Linked DNA regions of Homo sapiens: region 1 is linked to region 2. Evidence: fine-mapped expression QTL. Tissue or cell type: whole blood. Region 2 holds a variant in brackets; the other region holds the start of a gene. All regions are shown on one strand. Distances are between the middles of the regions. Region 1 holds the start of TJP2 (tight junction protein 2). Region 2 has its middle 39 kb from the start of TJP2.

Region 1 (10,650 bases), 39 kb after region 2:
CTTTTATAAATTGTCATTATCTTCTGTATAGCTACCCCAGGGTATATGGTAGGCATTCAAGAAAGGTTTGTTAAAGGAGAGTTACGATTCCAGTCTACTTTACAGTGTACACGTTAACTAAATTGTTTGGTGAACCTGTAAACTTTTCTCTTTTTTTTTTTTTTTGGGGGGGGGATGGAGTTTCACTCTTGTCGCCCAGGCTGGAGTGCAGTGGCGTGATCTCGGCTTACTGAAACCCCCACCTCCCAAGTTCAAGTGATTCTCCTGCCTCAGTCTCCCAAGTAGCTGGGACTACAGGCGCCTGCTACCATGCCAGCTAATTTTTTTGTATTTTTAGTAGAGACGGGGTTTCACCATGTTAGTCAGGGTGGTCTCGAACTCCTGATCTCAGTTGATCCATCCGCCTCGGCCTCCCAAAGTTTTGGGATTACAGGCGTGAGCCACCGTACCCGGCTGAACTTGTAAACTTTTCAGTGTTAGTTTTCTTTGCTCCCAGTTGATGATACTTTATAACCATATTGCAGATATATACATATATATATATACACACACACAGATATGTTTCTTAAGATCTCCACATTCTTGAGAAAATATGACTAAAAGGCATTTAGTTTATCTCATTAAGGTCTTCTGACCAACTTATTTCTTATTTTTTGAGACAGTGTCTCTCTCTGTCACCTAGGCTGCAGTATAGTGGTGCAGTCATAGCTTACTGCAGCCTCAAATTCCTGGGCTCAAGCAATCCTCTCCCCTCAGTCCTCGAGTAGCTGGGACTACAGGCACATGCTACCATGCCCAGGTAATTTTATTTTATTATTAGTTTTTGTAGAGACAGAATCTCACTATGTTGTCCAGGCTGGACTCAAATCCCTAGGCTCAAGCAATCCTCCTGTCTAGCCTCCCAAAGTGCTGGGATTACAAGCATGAGCCCCTGCACCTAGCTGACCAACCTATTTCAGAGACCTTATATATTGTAATATACACTGAAAAGTTGAAAAAAATTGTCCATTGCACAAACAATAACTAAATTTAAAAAGAAAAATATATGCACAAGCCTGTCTTTTCATGAAGTCATTTTTTTGCATACTTTCCAGTTTTTATTTTTTTTATAATTTTATCACTGTCATCATCATACATTAGATGTAATTTGTGTTTTTTTGTTGATAATTATAGCATTATCATTCTCCTTGTTGTATAGACTTCCTTATTACAATTTTAAATGATGGTCTGCTATGCCAATTATGTTGATTTACTGTAATTTAATAGCCCAGCCCACCATCATTGGACATTGGTGGTTTCCATCATTCATTATTAGATACAGGCATATAGTGAAGTGCTGCCTCATACCTAGTCATCCACTGTAATCTAACCTCCAGTCGTATCTTTCCATTGAAAAGCTCTGGCCAAGATAAGCAGTGGTCCTCCACTTAATGAACATCATCAGTTCTTACCTTAATTGACCTCCTCGAAATTCCATGTTGTTGGCCTCTCCCTCTTTCCTGAAGTTTGTTCTTTCCTTGGCTTTTTGGACACTCTCCTCCAGAAGCGTTTTCTTTCCTTTCTGGCAGCTCCTCTTTGGTCTCTGTTCTGGCAACTCAAGTCTGCCCCCTAAATATTGGCATTCCCAGAGATGAGTCCTGTCCTTAGTCCTCTCTTGGCTTAATCTACATCACGTCTCTGAATGTGGGATTGTCCCCTCCCAAGACTTCAACTTTTATGATACATTGATGATACCCAAATCACTCCCAAATCTCTCTCCTCAAATACTCATCAGTGCCTAGCACATAGGAGACACTTGATACATATTTGTTAAATTACTGAACATCTTCACCTGGATGACCCATAGCACTTGAAAATCAGTCTGTAACTAAACTCATCATCTTTCTTCAAGCTCCTCCCAAGATCTGCTCCCACTCCTGTGTTCTGTTTTGATAAAAGCCACCGTCATCTCCTTTAAGTAAGCCAGAAACCTGAGAGTCAGCGTAGGCTCACTTCCCGCTCGCGTCTCCCCATATCTAGTCAGGCAGTCATCCAGCCTGCTGATCTACTTCCTTAGTTTCTCTAGAATCTGGCTCCCTTTTGTCTAACACTGCCTAACTTCATAGCCACGTCATCTCTCACCTGCATTCCCACAAAAATGCATTTTTGGCCGGTCTTGTCATTCTTACTAACATTCTCCTCCCCCACCAACCCCTGTCCCCCACCAACTGTCAAATCCATCTTTATACTTGCCTGGGCAACTTCACCTTCTGGCACCTCAAGAGTAAGCCTGCTGTCTCTTCCTTCCTTACTTCTCTCTGTGTTATTTATTCCCCTTACCTGGAAGGCTTTTTTCCTTCTTTGTGTCTTAAAAACTCATTCCGACCTCTCCTTTAGAATGTATAAGCAACCCCATCTCTGGAAAGCCTTCCCTAAGTCTCTCCTGCTAGACCACTCTGAGCCTGCCAGGAATCTCAGTGCTTACACAGTTTATCATTACTTGTTGATTGTCTACTGCAATAGACTGAGTTTCCTAAGGCAGGATCCTGAGTATTTTATCAAGGGGTTGACAGAGGTGTTCAGTAAGTACCTGTTGAGTAGAAGAATTTTTTTTTTTTTTTTTTTTTTTTTGAGACGGAATCTCGCTCTGTCACCAGGCTGGAGTGCAGTGGTGCAATCTCGTCTCACTGTAACCTCCGCCTCTTGGGTTCAAGCGATTCTCCTGCCTCAGCCTCCTGAACAGCTGGGACTACAGGCGTGCGCCACCACGCCCAGCTAATTTTTGTTATTTTTAGTAGAGACGGGGTCTCACCATGTTGGCCAGGATGGTCTTGATTTCTTGACCTCGCGATCTGTCCGCCTCGACCTCCCAAAGTGCTGGGATTACAGGCATGAGCCACCGCGCCCTGCGGAGTAGAAGTTCTTTGGATAAACACATTCTAGGAGTGGGGTCAAAATGTGCAAACCCACACGTGAAGAAGATGACTAATAAATTGTTTCTCCAAAGAGTTGTATTGATTTACACTGCCACCAGCAAAAAAGCTAATATATCAACTGAACCGTGTTTCTAACAACCATTTACTGAATGCTTATCATCTGTCAGGTGTTGTGCCAGAAGAATGGAGTTTGTCTATAAATATTTCATCATTTCGAGTAGTGCAGTCCAACAGAACTTTCTGCATTGATGGAAATATTCTATATTTGCACTGTCCAATAGGGTAGCTATTAGCCACATGTGGCTTCTGAGCCCTTGAAATGAGACAAGTGTGACTGAAGAACTGAATTTGTCATTTCCTCTAATTTTAGTTAATTTACATGTAAATGTAAACACTTACTGGTGGCAAGTGGTCATCTTATTGAACAGTGCCGCTCTAGAGAGAAAAAAGGAAATCAGTCAGTAGATGTAACTGCCACATTCTGGATTATTTTTTAAATGTTAGTGGCTCTAAGCCCACATCATTAAGGTGTGGCCACCTTTCAAGTGCTATCATTTTTATTAGTCAGCACCACCTAATTTGGGAAATATTTTATTTTTTTTTCCTTTTTTTTGATTAAAACAATTTTTAAAAAATAGAGATGGGGTCTCACTATGTTGCCCAGACTGGTCTCAAACTCGTGGGCTCAAGTGATTCTCCTGCCTTGCCTTCCCAAAGTGCTGGGATTACAGGCATGAGCCACCGTGCCTGGCCAGATTTGGGAAACATTTTATAAATAGGTGCTTAGATCAGGAGAGCAATGCCTTACATCAGGAATACAACCAAAATGTCTAAGTCCGGAGACTCGAGGCAAAGTGGGAAACGTTACTCACAGTGCTTTTTATCCAGAGGCGTGGACTTAGTTACTCCAAAGGAGTCCAGAAGCATAACACTTCTGGAGAGGCATCTACTGGACTTGTTTTTCCACGAAACTTCTAGACTTGTTTTGATCAGGCAGGAAGTGAAGCAACTTTTCAGGGAGAGAGCCCAGCATCTGCATCTCCTCTGGGACAGACCACACCTTTTACCTTCTACTTGTGAGCCTAGGACGAGTTTTGCTTTCCAATTAAGGGAAGAGCAGGGCAGGCAAAACTATTCTCTTACAAGATGGTTTTTTAAGATTTCAAACCCAAGGTTATATTTTTAATCGGTACCTGTTTGGATTCTCCAAATTAATTTATATGCTCTTAAAATAAAGACACTTAACGTCACTGCACAATTCTTTGCACATGGAGGACTTCGAAAGGAATAAGCACACTGAATTGCATTAGATGAATCCTGTCAGATAAGCACTTGTGACCTACTGGCAACCTTTTATAAGCTGATGATGGGAGAGGAGTTTCAATCTCTTTATTGGAGTTGTTGGAAATGTGCCAAAGAGATAACCTGGAATATATTGTCCTGAAAAGTCCTGTTTTAATATTTAATACGAACATCTTATAACCCTCGGAATTCGGGTAGGCAGTTGTTGGGCTGAGAAATGTGGGGTACAAGGCCGTGTATGTGTTGGTTAGCCGGGCAGGCCTCTAGACAGGACCTAAAACTTTGAGGTTTTCCCAGTTCGACTCTTCGTAGGAGAACTGAAGCTGCCTGTGTGAGGCCCTGCGAACCTCGCCAAAAAGTCTTCCTACAGGATGCCCCCGCGACCTCACCGGGGAAACACCGCGGACAGTCGGGCCAGCAGCGCCCGGAGCTCACTCCAGGTCTCCAAACTTGCAGCACTTCCCAGAGCGCGCGCGCTCGGAGCGGGACCTGCTTGCTCCAGTGCACGCCGCGGAGCGAACCATCGGGCTGGCGGGGGTGGAGGGGTGCAGGCGTGGGGGCTGCGGGCCGCTCGGGCCTTGGGCTTCTCCTGCCGCCGCCGCCGCCTCCCGCCCCCGGCCAGGAGTCGCGCGTGACGCGGTTCGCCGCAGGAGCCTCGAAGGCGCGGCGCCGGCGAGCCCTTCCCCGGCAGGCGCGTGGGTGGTAGCGGCCAATTTGACAGTTTCCCGGGCCGGGCGGCCAGCGCGGAGGCGCCACGCTCGGGTCGGGGGCGGGCTGACGCCGCCGCCGCCGCGGGAGGAGGGACAAAGGGGTGGGTCCCCGCGGGTCGGCACCCCGGCGGTTGGGCTGCGGGTCAGAGCACTGTCCGGTGGTGCCCAGGAGGAGTAGGAGCAGGAGCAGAAGCAGAAGCGGGGTCCGGAGCTGCGCGCCTACGCGGGACCTGTGTCCGAAATGCCGGTGCGAGGAGACCGCGGGTTTCCACCCCGGCGGGAGCTGTCAGGTTGGCTCCGCGTAAGTGCCTCCTTGTGCCGCGCGGTTGGGAGGAGGGTCGTGAGCGTGAGCGTGGGAGCGCTGGGGGCTCTGCTCGCGTGCTGCTCTGAAGTTGTTCCCCGATGCGCCGTAGGAAGCTGGGATTCTCCCATCCGGACGTGGGACGCAGGGGAGGGGTAGGTTTCACCGTCCGGGCTGATGACTCGTGGCCTCCGGGGCTCCTGGAACCTTTACTCTGAAGTCACTTGGGCTGGAGATTAAGGCGCGAGTAGGGGACACTGTCTTGAACCCGGTGTCCTGGATTTCTGCTGGCTTGGAGGCATCTCGTGTCTGTTGTGTCGCTTGCATGTCTTTGTGTTTTCCTTCTCTATTTCAAACCACACTCGGTATTGATGCAAAGTTACAGGCTTGTGTACGTGAGAGAAACTGAAAACTCATCACAGAGCAGAATCCCTTTTCCCTTTCAATCAGCTGCGTCTGTAATAGAAGTAAAAGTTGTTTTTTTTTTTTTTTTTTTCCAGTAGGGAATGGGGATGGAGGTTTGGAAGGACCCACAAAAGAGGAGTGTGATGAATGCTTTGTATTCTAGTACTAGCCTACCTGTCACCAGTTCTTTTTATGTCTTCATTTGTCAAGTTTCTGCTTTTACACGGTAGTTTAAGTTATAAATAATCAGGGATTTCTACCACAGGGTTTTAACATTCTTGAAATGTGGACAAACTTGGGAGTGAGTGCTCCCGCGCTTAGTAATGGAATACAGCCTCCCACCTCTATTTCAGCTTCAGTTCTTAGGCTAGGCTGCTTTTCTGGCAGCTGTCTGGCCTGAGTAATGATGGTTGTGGTTTCCCTGAAGTTCCCAGCGGAGAGTCATCCCATGATAGAAACTGCCTTGCGCTTCTCACTCACGCTCTCAGCCCGGGGAATCCCAGCGGGGAGGAGGGAGGGAGGTCGTTTTCTTCAGCTCCCCAGGTGGTCTGTGCTGGGTGTGCTGACGGTCCTTTTGGGAAAACAGGTCCACCTTTGCCAGCGTAATTCAGAAAGAGATGTAATTTTCTGAGAGCACACACCTGGGCAGGAGATCGCTTGAAGTGAGAAATTCGTAGTGGTAAATGTATTTGTAGCAAAGTACCACTGCATATCCTGCTTGAGAGGATGAAATTTGATTATTTAGTAAGTTTTCATGAACAACTCCACTTCAGTGTGGGGATTACGCAGATGAGCAAGAGCGTGGCTCTGTCACACAGTCCCGTTGGGAAAGCCTGCAACTCATTAAGAATCCGATGAGTGCCATTTAGAAATGTGGACAGGGTACTGGAGCTTCCTCATTGTGGGGAGATGGCAGAAGCGGAGGTGCTTTACTAAAGCACCGGTGGCTTTTGAGGTGTTTCTTGTGTTTTTTTCAGAACTACTTCTGCAGTGGGGCCACTTTATTTCTTTTCAGAGCTACTTATGCAGATTGATGAAGGGGAACTTTCCCCTCTGAAATGCTGCTGTAACTTTTTCAGTACCATCCAGATATTATAATACTGAATGAGCCCCTACTCCTGCCAGTCACTGTGGGGGATACAAAGATGAACAAGATTCAATTTCTGCATTTAGGGGTCTAGTGGACCTGAAACTGTTAGACTTTACTCTGCAATCTGTGTCGGGATTCCTGAGACTGAGGGAGGGAATGTATGATGCCGATGCACACTCTGCAATACAGAAATTTAGCAAAGAGTGGGATTGGTCCTATATGCATTCCCTTCAGGGGATTCTTGCTGGGAATAAAGGGCATTTGAACAGTTACCTCACCCGAGCAAGCCACTATAGAAAATGGGGCCAGTAATGCGCCCACCTCACCGGGCTGAGTGAGGTCTGAATGAAATGACAGAGAGTACAAGGCATGTGGTGGATGCTACGTAAATGGTGGTAGCTAGTAATAGGAACAAAACGGGTGCTGAAAACTCTTAAGTGTTGGGTCCTGGGTTGATAAGGGAGGTGAGATCTAAAGATACAAGTAGGAGGTGCCAGGTAGGTGTCCAGGAAAAAACTGAAAGAGTTGTTGTTCACACTCTGTTAAAAGGCCTTGAAGGCCATAACGAAGCTTTGGGTGGGGGGAAGTCAGAAATCCCTCATGTATTAAATGACTTGACTTTCCCTACAAAAGAAGCGAACCAGTTTCCCAGTAAACATCCCACCCCATAACTATTTTTGAGGCATTCATAGGCTTAAGACCAATGAATTTTTACATCACCCCCGGGGGAATTGCATTTGCAATGACTTCTGCCTACATTTAACTTTTGATCTAGTTCTTTGTACACTGACAAAAGTTCACAGCCAACCATTTCTCTTCAGGACAAGTGTGAGAACTTTCTGCATACTGCTGAAGGCAAGGGAGATTTTGAGTTTAGCAAGGTTTTCTCTCCTTAAGAAGGTTATCTTTTTACGAGACACAAGTTATTGAAACTAGGCGGGGCCACTTTAGTCCTGTGTACAATAATATGTGTAGTAATATAAATAGTAATTTAAAAAGTCATGCAGACTTGGTTGGGGAGAGGCATGAAGTTTGGGTGTGGTGGGGGCGGGGTGAAGCGGTAGAAGGGTTCGCAATCACTGCTGAAACTTTCAACATATTCTACCAACAATATGAGCCACCAGGGAATTCCTTGCCTCATCTCTAGAACGAATCCCATTAAGCAGTTGTGGCTACAGATGAATTTATCTAGGTTGAGAGCTGATTCCCAATAACATGCCTCATTGATTTGACTCTAAGCAGTAATCAGGGGCCCAACAGTTGTTGGACCAACCAGCCTTGATTTTCCAGAGAAGGTGATTTGGTATATGGTAGTGTCTGAGGGTGAGATTGCCCCAGATGGGAGTGGAGGGAAGCAGAACAGTTTTCTCTGGTGTTTTACTGAGTTTTTGTCTTGATCCTAAATCCAAGGGTTAGGGTCAGAAACACAGACTCAGAGGTTAGATTTAACACCCATTTAGTGGGTTAAACACATCAATGGTTATGTGAACTTTGTTAAGGTTTAAAAAGCTATTTAGGGCCTGTTTCTCCCTCATAGGAATTTTTGCAATCAGCCTTTTTAGTAGATGCCCATATAGAAAGTGAATTTGGGAGGGTCTAAGGTGGTATTACTATTAAACTTTTTGAAAAGGCTGTGTGATAGCAATGGAAAAAAAAATTCAGGCATGGAAATCCAATATGCAGTATTGCAGTAGCTAGTTTTAATTTTATTTTTGTTTTTTTGGTTTTTTTTTTGGAGATGGAGTCTTGCTCTGTTGCCCAGGCTGAAGTGTGGTGGTGCGGTCTTGGCTCACTGCAACCTCTGCCTCCCGGGTTCAAGCGGTTCTCTTGCTTCAGCCTTCAAAGTAGCTGGGATTACAGAAGTGAGCCACCGTGCCCGGCCACTAGTTTTAATTTTGGATGGTACCTAGGAAAGCAGTTGAGCTAGTATGCTGCATACATTGTAGTGTGAGAGGCAGAGTTCCGAGTTGGAGAGTGTCTGCTTCCACTTTTTCCATTTGATTAGGAAAAGCACTTCTTAGAACTGGGTGACTGACAGCTAGAGCCCCAGAAGACCTGCACAAGCTGGGGCAATGGCTACCCATAACAGTGACGGCTCCATTCTGTTTTTTAAAGGGATTGGTGTCTCTATCATCCAGCTGGCCATTAAACAACCAAAGCTTCATCATCCTAGATAACCTGTGAGCTCTCAGAGGAGACAGAGTAAGGACTATCATACCCCCAAAATACCTAATCATTTAATAAAGCATTTTCTCTACCTTTTATGCTATCCCAAAACAGTGCTTTCCAAAGTCTGGTATACAGACAGACTTACAGGTGGTGCAGAGAGATACATATTCTATTTTTCAATTATGATGCATGAATATTATATGTTAGGAATAAAAACAGAAAACCAGCTACCACATCCATTTATTTCATGGCTAGATTGCTTAGAATGAGGCAAAAATAAATATTAAGTAAAGCAGTGAGTTTGCTTTAAGAAAAATTATCAACTCTGGGAATGAGTAATATGAGGCTAAGGCAAAAATGGTAAAGCTAGCCCTTGACATCTGAGGTGTGCATAATACTGCTTAAAATATGAGTGTGGTGCTTACTTATAGAGAGCCTGGTATACCTTGACCACGCCTTCAAGAAAGTCAAACACAGAATGGCCCAGAATAGCCAGGAAAGTTGAATTTGATGGACTTTCTGTCTTAAGCGTGTGCATCCTGCTCTTATCCACTCAGATCTCTTAGATGTGGTTGCAGACAGTGTATTTGTAGAGCTAGCTGTTTGTTTTAACGTCTGGCCCAATTCTCATTCCTTTCTCTGCTTCCACAAGCCATTCTGCAGTTTTTAAAGGTCTGTTGGTATGATATTTTTGATATGATAGAGTGATAGGGGAGGAAGTATTTTGACACTGATGAAGGACATCACTGTATTATCAAGTGACTCTTGCTCATGATTCATTGCCGAAGAATGTGGACAGCCAAACAGCCTCACCTGTAAATGCATTTAATTTCTCAAAGTCTTTCAGAAGAATGCCAACTGGATGAGTTTTTTTTTCTTATTTTTTTTTTAATATGAAGCTTGTATTGGTCTGTAAAATAGGCTTTAACAAGGATTTTCGTAGGAACAGGAAGCCTTGAGGTAGAAAACAAGTATCCCTGCTTTGACCTAGAGAGATGCATGCTCATGGCAGGCGAATGAATCAAGGAGAAGAGAAAATACTGTTTCAGTAGACTCTCTAGTGATGTGTGTGTTCACACCATTTATGAGAAATCCTAAGCTTTCAATTAGTAACTTGTACTTTAGTCATTTAAAATCAGCACAGATGTTTGTTTAGTGCCTCTGCCAGATGGTTAAAGTTAAATCAGGTTTTTTAACCTGAAAAACGTAATGTAGCTTTCCTTAACCATTTACACACCATTGTATATTGCAGACCATAGTCAGATACATTTTGTTATAATGAATGTTTATTTTACCTTTTAGCTCAATTAGAATATCAGTGGTTATGGTTTCTATTTTGTTTTCCTACAGTTACTGTATGGGGGTGCAGTAACAGCGGTGGTGGTGAAAGTAAGTTACTTTTTTCTTTTTCTTTCTTTTTTTTTTTTTTTGAGACGGAGTCTCCCTCTGTCGCCCAGGCTGGAATGCAGTGGTGCGATCTCGGCTCACTGCAAGCTCCACCTCCCGGGTTCACGCCATTCAGCCTCCCCAGTAGCTGGGACTACAGGCGCCCGCCACCACGCCCGGCTAATTTTTTGTATTTTTAGTAGAGACGGGGTTTCACCATGTTAGCCAGGATGGTCTTGATCTCCTGACCTCGTGATCCACCCGCCTCGGCCTCCCAAAGTGCTGGGATTAGAGGTGTGAGCCACCGCGCCCGGCTGAAAGTGAATCTCTTAATGGATCTTCCATGAATCAAATATTTGTGTTTTAGTAAGT
Region 2 (10,650 bases):
CATTTGAGGGTTCTTTGAGACAGTAGTGGGATAGGTGAGTGGAAGTGTGTAGCGCAGTGATTCTCAAACATTAGTTTGCATCTGAACCATCTGGAAGGCTTGTCAAAATACAGATTGCAGGCCCCCCTCCTGGAGTTTCTGATTGCGTAGATCTGGGGCGGGGGCTCAAGAATCTGTGTCTCTAACGAGTGCCCACCCAGGTCATGCTGCTGCTGCTGCTCTGGGAATCCCGCTTTGAGAACCAGTGCTTTGGAGGCCTTTGGAAGTGCAGGTCTGGAACTTGCATGACGGAAGGGGCCGGGCTTGAGGCTGGTCTGGGCATCCTGTGTGTGCAGGGGCTTGGTGGAGCTGTGGAAGTGGGTACCAGCCAAAGCAGGGCGCATAGACAAGTGCTGAGGACGAATTGAGGAATACTGTGGGGAGGGGTGGCTGCGAGGAAGAACAGAGCTGAGAGATAAGGAAGAAATGGACAGAGGGTTATGAGGAGACCTGGGTGAGTGAAGACCCACAAACTCCTATGTAAAGGTTCAGGAGAGTGAGGACATGTATGGGTATTGGTGTCAGGGGAGGGACTGAGTGGTCACCCGGATGGTAGGTGTTGTAGCTGTGCAGGCCTGGCCTTTCCACCATTCTTTCAGGAAGGGCAGCATCCCCGGGCAGTGGGATGTGCTGCTTGTGGCCACAGAGTCACATGTGGACTTTCCTGTAAGAAAGGGAATTCTTTTAGTCTTTCTGGCCGTAGTCCCAGGGATCATGACTAAGTTCTCTCCCTCTTTCTGCCTGTCACTGATAATTAACGTAAAACCAGGATGAGTTTTGCAAACCAGAAGCAAGATTTCTTTGTGCGAGGAGTGACTGTCATCTCTAAAACTGGAGTTTGTGTCCTTGTGTGTATTTGCCTGCTCAGCTTAATAGCTTTAGGCATGCAGTCATCTTAGCATAACTTGATATAAGCCGATTCTGAGAGTGGGTGCTGACATATGGAAGTGTTTTTGACAGTCCACGTTGTGAAGGTCAGGAGGTTTGCTACAGGAAAGAAATCCAAGAAGGGCAGTGGCCCACTGGTGTTGGGTCCTCTGAGAGTGAGCTGTGTTCTACTCTTCCCACTCACGTCACAAAGTCGAGAGAAACATCCCCTAATTTGATTGTATATTTCATTTTAAAGGAATCCTCATTGCGTCTGAGGATGTAAAATATTTCTCTTGGGTTTCGGAAAGAGGCCAAAGCCTGCCCCAAGGTGTTCTCTGTTATCATTTGGGGCATCTGTTGTTAGTAGAGAGCAAAGTGATTTAATATCAGTGCTTGTAAACCAACTGCCTGGTGACTTGCTGTATGGTCAGGAACTGAGTAGCAGCTCCTTAGTTTAGACTTTCCAATTTGCCTTTGATCCCACTCAGCCCTTTGCACAGATGAACATTCCTGCTGGCCCCTGTAGGCCCTGGGTGTGTGATTCCTCTGGTTAATGGACAGGACTGGAAAGGAAATATTTCACAACCCTGCATCTGTGGAGAGGGAGTGTCCTGGAATCCCCAAGACCACCCCCAGTTTCAATGATTCACTAGGAGGACTCACAGTACTCAGCACAGAGTTGTACTCATGGCTATGATTTATTATGGCTCAAAGATGCAAAGCAAAATAAGCCAAGGGGAGAAGTACTGGAGCGAAGTCCAAGGCAAGCAGGCACAAGCTTCCAAGGCTCCTCTCCCAGTAGAGTTACACATGATGTGCTTAATTCCCTGGCAACTAGTTGTGACCACACATGTGAAATGTTATCAACCAGGGAAGCTTATAAGGGACTCACTGCCCCGGGTTTTTACTGGGGGATTGTTACACTGGTGTCCTCTGCCTACCAGCTACCCAAATTTCAGACTCACACAAGGAAAGCAGCTGTTCAGCATAAACCACATGGTTGTACAGTTTAAGGACAGTGTGAGACTCTTACCAGTCCTGGCAGTGGTGGGAATCCAAATTCCCAGGCATCAGCTGAGAGCCACCTTGTAAGTGGGTCTTTCAAAGGATAACAGTCAGGCTTGCTATGTTACCTTTTGGATGGGGATGAGAGTGGCAGGTGAGGATGGTGGTGGGGACCCCTGAACTTGGAGAAGGGATCTGTTAATGCAGCCTCGGGGCCTGGTGCTGCAGGAGAAGGTGGAAGGAAGTGAACTGGGGTTTTGCACCTAGATCCTGGGTTCAGAATGATAACTGGGATTCCTGCACTACACGGATAGAGAAGGGTGGAAAAGAGTTCAAAGTCCTGTGCATTCATTCATCCATTTATTCATTCTTAACAGGCGCTTATCAATGCCTATGCCCTTTGAGGCACTGTGGCAAGGTGCTAAGGATACCACGGTGAGCAGGGTAAATTCTCTGCTCTCATGAGACCCACTTCTAGAGGGAATGAATGAGGAAAGGGGCAGTTAAATTCATTGCTATGGGGATATACCAAAGGCCCTAGGGTACCTACCTGGTAGGCTTAGTGGGAGTTCAGAAGGCATGAATTTTATAATCAGACCAACCTGGGTAGGAATCACACCTCTACTACTTATTACCTGTGTGCCTTGGGCAAGTTACTTAGTCACCTGGTGCCTAGATTTCTTCATTTCTTCATCTAAAAACAGGGAGAATTTATTGCCTTTTTTTTAAGATAGGGTCTCACTGTGTTGCTCAGGCTGGAGTGCAGTGGTGCAATCTCGACTCACTGCAACTTCTGCCTCCTGGATTCAAGTGATCCTCCTACCTCAGCCTCCCAAACAGCTGGGACTACAGGCATGTGCCATCACACCTGGCTAATTTTTGTATTTTTTGTAGAGACAGGGTTTTACCATATTGCCCAGCCTGGTCTCGAACGCTTGAGCTCAAGCAACCCTCCTGCCTCGGCCTCCCAAAGTGCTGGGATTACAGGCATGAGCCACTGTGCCCATCCTTTCTTTTAAGGCTGTTGTGAGAACTAAACAAGGCCGTGTATGTAGAGTGCTTATTTCAGGGGCTGGCACAGTAGAAATGTTCACTAAATAATGGCTTAGCGACGCCTAGCCAAGGATAGGTGTGTATTCTCCGGAAAGACTGGCGTCTGCTGCATCTTCACTCTGCAAGTCACTTCAGAGGCATCCCCTTCAGCCCTGGGCTCATGGGTGCACACAAGCCTGCATTCCTGCCACACTGCTCCGCTTGCTGGTCTAAGAATGCTTTCCTGTTTCATTTTTCTGGCTTTTTTTTTTTTTTTTTTTTTTTGAGACAGGGTCTCGCTCTGTCACCCAGGCTGGAGTACAGTGGCGCGATCTCGGCTCACTGCAGCCTCTGCCTCCCGAGTTCAAGCGATTCTCCTGCCTCAGCCTCCTGAGTAGCTGGGACTACAGCGTGCACCATCATGCCCAGCTAAGTTTTATATTTTTAGTACAGACAGTGTTTCACCATGTTGTCCAGGCTGGCCTCGAATTCCTGACCTCAAGTGACCCGCCTGCCTCAGCCTCCCAACGTGCTGGGATTACAGATGTGAGCCACCATGCCCAGCCTCATTTTTCTGGCTCTTGAACACACTTTTCTCTTTACCTGGATGCCCCAGATTTCTTTTGTCAGCCTAAGGAATATGTACTCCTATTATTAAGACCCAACTCAAGTACTTTCTCTTTTCTCTCTTTCTCTTTCCCAAGCCAAGTCCCTCGGACAGGATTGCTCATGCTCTCCTATGTCCTACCCTGGTTCCATGGTCACTCACATCCGTATTACAGCATGCTGGGTCGCAGTTGCTTGTTGCAGCATTAGACTGGGTGATTTTTGAAGGCAAGGATGGCTTGGTATTATTTGAATCTCCAGTGCCAATCAGACTGTTTGATAGGGACCAGCTCAGGGGATGTAGAGGGAGTGAATGAATGAGTGTGGAGTTGGACTGGAACACCCAACGTGAAATGGATACAACGTCAGCAAAATAGGTCTCTGCCCTCAGAGCAGAGCTTACAGTCTGGAGGAGGCAGATGGTGCACAGGTAAACATAAATATAACAATTAGAGACTAAGCAGTGACACAAGTCCCACAGCAGGTGCAGGGAGTCTCTCCTGGGAAGAGGGAGAAATAGGAAGTTGGAATGTTGATACCCTGGGCAATGTGGGGCTGTTGTCTGGAGTGTGAGTGGTGTTGGAGGCCTGAAGGGCTGGTCCTGTGGGGTGCACACCTGGAGAGCTAGGAGGCGGATAGTGAAGCAGTGGTCACTGGCACCTCAGCTGCCAGAGGGCAGGATTGCAGCAAGATCTAAGTGTCCACTTGGAAGGCTGAAGTGCTCCACTCAAGCAAGACAAACTGGGTTCGAGGAACCCAGGGTCAATAGAGGAAGTACCACCCAGCGAGCTGAAAGACCTGTCTGAGCTGGGCCTACGACCTGTGTCTTAGTCAGCTCGGGCTGCTATAATGAAGTACCAATGACTGGGTGGGTTAAGTAACAGACATTTGTTTCTCAGCGCTCTGGAGACATGAGGTTTGATACCAGGTGCCAGGATGGTCAGGTTCGTGGTGAGAACCCTTTTCCTGGCTTGCAGACAGCCACCATCTTGCTGTATGCTCACATGGCCTTTCCTGGATGCATTGTGTATGGAGAGAGAGGGAGAAGAGAGAAGAGGAGAGAGAGAGAGAGAGAAGAGAGAAGAGGAGAGAGAGAGAGAGAGAGATCTGTTTCTCTCATTCTCTCTCTTGTTGTAGGGACACTAATCCTATCATGAGAGTCCCACCCTCATGACCTCATCTAAACCTGATTACCTCCCAAAAGTCCTATCTCCAAATAGCATCACACTGGAGGTTAGGGCTTCAACATATGAATTTTGGGGAGATACAAACACTCAGTCCTTAGCAACCCAGGCCAATAACGATTTGCTGAGTAAATAATCATGGCTGGCACT[CT/C]TAATAGCTCTTTGAATGGGACAGGACCTAAATGTTTTGCATATAGTCATTAAAATTCATTCTCAAACAATCTCACTAGGTATGGCCATTATTTATTATCCCCGGTTTACAGATGAGGAAACCCAGGCCCTGAAGAATTTAAGTGATTTGCTAATTAAGTGTGAAGCTGGGATTCTGACCAGGCAGTCTGCTTCTAGGGTCTAGGATTTTGTTGTTGTTGTTGTTTGTTTTTTGAGGCAGAGTCTCGCTCTGTCACCCAGGCTGGAGTACAGTGACACGATCTCAGCTCACTGCAACCTCTGCCTCCCGGATTCAGGTGATTCTCCTGCCTCAGCCCCCTGAGTGGCTGGGATTACAGGCATGCACCACCACACCTAGCTGATTTTTTTTTTTTCTTTTGAGACGGAGTTTTACTCTTTTGCCAGGCTGGAGTGCAGTGGCGTGATCTCGGCTCACTGCAACCTCCACCTCCCGGGTTCAAGCAATTCTCCTGCCTCAGCCTCCCAAGTAGCTGGGACTATAGGCTCGCGCCATCACGCCCAGCTAATTTTTGTATTTTTAGTAGAGATGGTGTTTCACCATGTTGGCCAGGCTGGGCTCAAACTCCTGGCCTCATGTGATCCATTTGCCTCAGCCTCCCGAAGTGCTGAGATTACAGGCGTGAGTCACCGTGCCCAGCCAAGTGTAGGGTCTTAATCATTATACTTGCCTGACTCTTAATTAAGAAGTAAACTCTAATATTATTGGACGTCAGTCAAGTGCTAGTTCCTGAGTGAGGAGAGATATTAGAGATAGAAGGATGACTATGACATCATACCTACCTTTTAGGCTATCTCAGAATGCTCAAAGAGATATTATTTCTTGATGTCAATTCAAATTTGATACCACCAAGAAACTTTTATCTTTGTCTTGTAACTGTGGTCCATAGAACCAATAGCAGAGGAAAGTGTTTTGCAATTTCAAATGTGTCTCGTGGCTGAACTGCTGACAAAAAAATATGTTTTTTAAGAATAATGGGTGCAGTGGCTCATGTCTATAATCCCAGCACTTTGGGAGGCCAAAGCGGGAGGATCACTTGAGACCAGAAGTTTGAGACCAGTCTGGGTGACATAGTGAGACTTCATCTCTACTGAAAAAAATGAATAAATAATGAGCTGAGTCATCAAGTTAAAATGTACAGTTCATTTTAGTAGAGTGTATACTATAATGACAATAACTTCAATGATGGTAAAAGGTATCCTAAAATTTATAATACTAATCAAATCATAATACAGTTTGAGAAAATATAGAACCATTTATGTAAAAAAGTTTTTTTTTAGCTAAAAATAAATGTAGATGATTTGGAAATATTTTACAGGAAAATTTAGAACAAAGTGTCTTAAAGACTTTGCGGTGTTTCTGGATCTTGACTACTAGGGTCATGTGCAAGCTCAGTGAATGCAGGAGGAAACTACATCCATTTCCTGGTTGGGGGTGTCTGGGAAAAACTCAGCCCATGAGGGAGAAGGAGAGGATGAGGAGGACAGCGGCCCTTTGGTGAGAAGCCTGGTGATGGTGGTAGGGTGTGTTCACTCAGGCTTCCTGGAGAAGGAGAAGGAAGAGGATATCCTCTTGTCATGAACTCCACATTTGGATTCACTGGAAACAGATTTGGGAAAGAGCAGGAGGAGAGGGAAGAGGTTGGGGGTGTGGGACCCTCCTGTCTCCGAGGAAGCAGCACCACTGCTCAGGGCAACGCTTTGTGTGTGTCATCAGATGCTAGAGGATCCACTTCCAGAAGGCACTGAGCAGAGTGGAAGGAGTCAGCCCTGCTGCGTAGGAGCTGTGCGATCCAGGCCAGGTTCCTTAGCTCTGCCTGATCCCTGAATTATGTGGCTCGAGTTTCATTGTTCTGTTGGTTATTCTCTTTCTCAGGTCGGCAGCCTCTCGTCATGAGCTGAGGTTTTGTCCAGCTGCCCACACTCTTCAACCAATGATCATGAGCTTCTTTGTTTTCTTTCCTTCTTTCTTTCTTTCTCTCTCTCTTTCTTTCTTTCTTTCTTTCTTTTTCTTTCTTTCTTTCTTTCTTTCTTTCTTTTCTTTTCTTTTCTTTTCTTTTCTTTTCTTTTTTTTTTTTGAGACAGGGTTTTGCTTTGTTGCCCAGGCTGGATGGAGTGTGCAGTGGTGTGATCACAGCTCACTGCAACGTGTGCAGTGGTGTGATCACAGCTCACTGCAATGTCTGCCTCCCAGGCTCAAACGATCCTCTCGCCTCAGCCTCCTGAGTAGCTGGAACCACAGATGCGCACCACCAGGCCCGGCCAATTTTTGTATTTTTTTGTTGAGATGGAGTTTTGTCATGTTGCCCAGGCTGGTCTCGAACTCCTGGGCTCAAGTGATCTGCCCGCTTCGGCCTCCCAAAGTGCTGGGAATACAAGCATGAGCCACTGTACTCAGCTGAGCTTTTTTTTTCAAGGGACAGAATCTGGCCTTGAGAAGAAGAAACTTTCCAGCTTTTCTTCAAGGTCTTTGAATCTCTTTCTGTGGGTCCCCAGATCTCCTGGTCACAGCTCATCTTGTCATTTGCCTCAGATCTTTCCTCCTCTTCCTCTACTTTGACAGGTAATATCTCAGCAGGCTCCATTTCTTTCTCGTGACAATGTGCAGTCATTTCATTTCCTCTCTCCAGAAGACTTTGGGCAGCTCAATCCAGACATCTTAAGATGCCCCTTTGGGTCTGCTTTTCTGTTCTGTTCTTCCACAGGGTTAGTATAGAATTGATTTTTCTCTCCCACTTGGTTGGTCAGAGGCATGCTTGACTTTGGAACATCAATCACTTTCTGGCCTCATCGTTCTGCCTGTCATCAACAGGATCTCCATCCTGATTCCAACTTAACAGCCCTGTTCTCTTCTCCAAGAGGCATTACCAGTTCTCTCATCTTGAACCAACGTTCCGCCCGTTCCATACCCAGACCCTCCATGCTGTCTGGAGGTCCCATGTCTTTGTTTGCTCATAATAGTTATAAGTGGGTTTTAGCTTCTTCCTCTTGAGTTTGGATGGATTTGGCTTCTGCTGCCAGAGCCTAGATTGTTCTCACGTATCAGACATTGGCTTATCTTGAGGGTGGAGGATTTTCTTTTCCCAGCTGGTTTGCTATAAAGTATATAATGGGCTCAGTCACAGGGCTGGACAGATCCAGGCCATCAGGAACTTCTGGGCTTTCACCTTTTTCCATCACAAGACAAAACTGGATGAGAACTTTACAAAAAAAAAAAAAAGGGCCAGGGACCATGGCTTATGCTTGTAATCCCAGCACTTTGGGAGGCTGAGGTGGGCGGATCACTTGAGGTCAGGAGTTCGAGACCAGCCTAACCAACACGGCAAAATCCTGTCTCTACTAAAAATACAAAAATTAGCCAGGCAGCCGGGAGGCTGGGCATGGTGGCTTACACCTCTAGTCCCAGCACTTTGGGAGGCCAAGGCGGGAGGATCACCTGAGGTCGGGAGTTTGAGATCAGCCTGACCAACATGGAGAAACCCCATCTCTACTCAAAATACAAAATTAGCCAGGCATGGTGGAGCATGCCTGTAATCCCAGCTACTTGGGAGACTGAGGCAGGAGAATTGCTTGAACCTGGGAGGCGGATGTTGTAGTGAGCTGAGATCGCACCACTGCACTCCAGCCTGGGTGACACAGTGAGATTCCATCTCAAAAAAAATAAAGGGGGCTGGGTGCAGTGGCTCGGGCCTATAATCCCAGCATTTTGGGAGGCCAAGGCAGGCAGATCACCTGAGGTCAGGAGTTCGAGACCAGTCTGGCCAACATGGTAAAACTCCTGTCTCTACTAAAAATACAAAAAAATTAGCTGAGTGTGGTGGCTCACACCTGTAATCCCAGCTGCTGGGGAGGCTGAGGTGGGAGAATCGCTTGAACCCTGGAGGCGGAGGTTGCAGTGAGCTGAGATTGAGCCACTGCACTCCAGCCTGGGTGATAGAGTGAGACTTCATCTCAAAAAAACCAACCAACCAAACAAAATGTTTTACTTTAGTCAGTGTTATGGGTTGAATTATATTTCCCACCTCCAAAATTTCTATGTTCAAGTCCTAACCCCCAGTTCCTCAGAATGTGCCTTTATTTGGAGATGCGGTGTTTATAGAGGTAATCAAGCTAAAATGAGATCATTAAGGTGGCCCCTAATCCAATCTGTTCTTATAAGAGGAGGAAATTTGGACACAGACACATACAGAGGGAAGGTAATGTGAAGACATAGAGAAAAGATGGGCCTTCCCAAGCCAGAGAGAGTGGCCTGGAGCAGCTCCTTCCCTCACAGCCCTCGCAGGACCTACCTTCCCAGCACCTTGGTCTTGGACTCGCAGGCATGAGATAATGAATTTCTGTTGTTTAAGCCACCCAGTCTGTGGTATTTTGTTGTGGCAGCCCCAGGAAACTAATTCAGGCAGAATAAGAAATTCTACCTAAAACCAAGAGAGCTATTAATGCAGCAGCTCATGGCACAGCCACCATCTCCCATTGATGAGCAGTGAGAGCGAGACCAGGTCTCCCATAGCCAGGTCCTTGTCTCGAACTCGGCCGTGTCTTCTAGGTTTACCAAGAGCAATAGCTCTGTAGCAGGACAAAGTTCCTCCATAGGGCCCTATACTGCCACAGAGTCCCCTGGGGCCTTCCTGGCCAGCAGGAAGGTCACAACACTGTGGTCACTGGGCAGGCTTCTGTCTGGAGCCAAACCTTCGTCTAGAGCAAGTAGGCGACCGCTGCCGTGAGCGTTGGGGGCAGGCTTAGATCAGTATGGAACTCAAACACCCTCAGAGCTGCCCTGGCCTCCTTCTTTCCTCCTCAGGTGCTTAAACACATTTTAAGTCATCGTGTTCCAGTTTTAATTGATGAAGCCCAAAGTATGTGAGAGGGCAGAATAGGAACACCAAACCCAGTCTGGGGATTCAACGAAAGAAAGCTTTTTGGAAGAAATGAAGCCACAACTAGTCAGCAAAGAAATTAAAATACACTTACACGGTGTATATTATGTGCTGGATGTTACATGTGCTCAGTGCTTTCCATGTAATAACTGGTGTAATTTTAAAAACAACTCTATGAGGTAGGCACTATTATTAGCCCTGCTTTACAGATAACTGAGGCAGAGACATTGACTCTTCCAAAGCCACACAGCTAGTCAGTGATGGAGCTGGACTTCAATCTCAGGCAGTGTGGCCCCCCAATTCATGCTACAGAGTGGGAGGGGTGTGTCAGCAGGTGCAGCGTGGGATCATGTGAACTACTCTCTCCAGCTGCTGTCAGCCAACTGCTGTATCTCAACACCTCATACCCGGTATAGTCACTACCAAGTTCCCAGTTCTGATGTGAGGGGTGTTCCTTTCCTAAAATTCCAGAGCAGAGGTGACTGATATTCCCCTCACCCAATGAATGGCCAGGCCACACTTGTCTTAAACCAGCTCCTGCCAAGATTCTGAATTCTGTGCAACACCTCATCGCTCATGTGCTCCCAGGCAAGGGAACTGCTAGAATCCTACAATTCTAGGCTCATAGTAGAAACAGCGTAGGATCAATTTCTACCAACAGTAATAGGGAGCGGTGTTCCCTCACATAAGGAGTTCAAAGTTTTTTATTTCTCTTTGTTTTTTTGGGAGACGGAGTCTCGCTGTCGCCCAGGCTGGAGTGCAGTGGTGCGATCTTGGCTCACTGCCACCTCTGCCTCCCAAGTTCAAGTGATTCTCCTGCCTTAGCTTCCCAGGTAGCTGGGACTACA

Evidence for each region.
Region 1: it holds the start of TJP2, and the variant in region 2 is fine-mapped to the expression of TJP2 in whole blood (TOPMed, PIP above 0.99).

Annotation. Positions count from the first base shown.
Region 1 is chr9:69,169,205-69,179,854 of GRCh38, forward strand. It overlaps TJP2 (tight junction protein 2), which reads left to right and starts at 5,073. Exons shown (of 23, transcript NM_004817.4): 1 at 5,073-5,228. The coding sequence starts at 5,169. It overlaps LOC124902175 (a long non-coding RNA gene), which reads right to left and starts at 2,393. Exons shown (of 2, transcript XR_007061566.1): 1 at 1,452-2,393. RefSeq lists a silencer at 4,662-5,091 and an enhancer at 5,982-6,171.
Region 2 is chr9:69,130,339-69,140,988 of GRCh38, forward strand. It overlaps a transcript of TJP2 not described here. Among named protein-coding and RNA genes, the nearest start is that of TJP2, 39 kb to the right of the region's middle. RefSeq lists an enhancer at 322-851. The variant CT/C (reference allele first, on the strand shown) is at 4,887.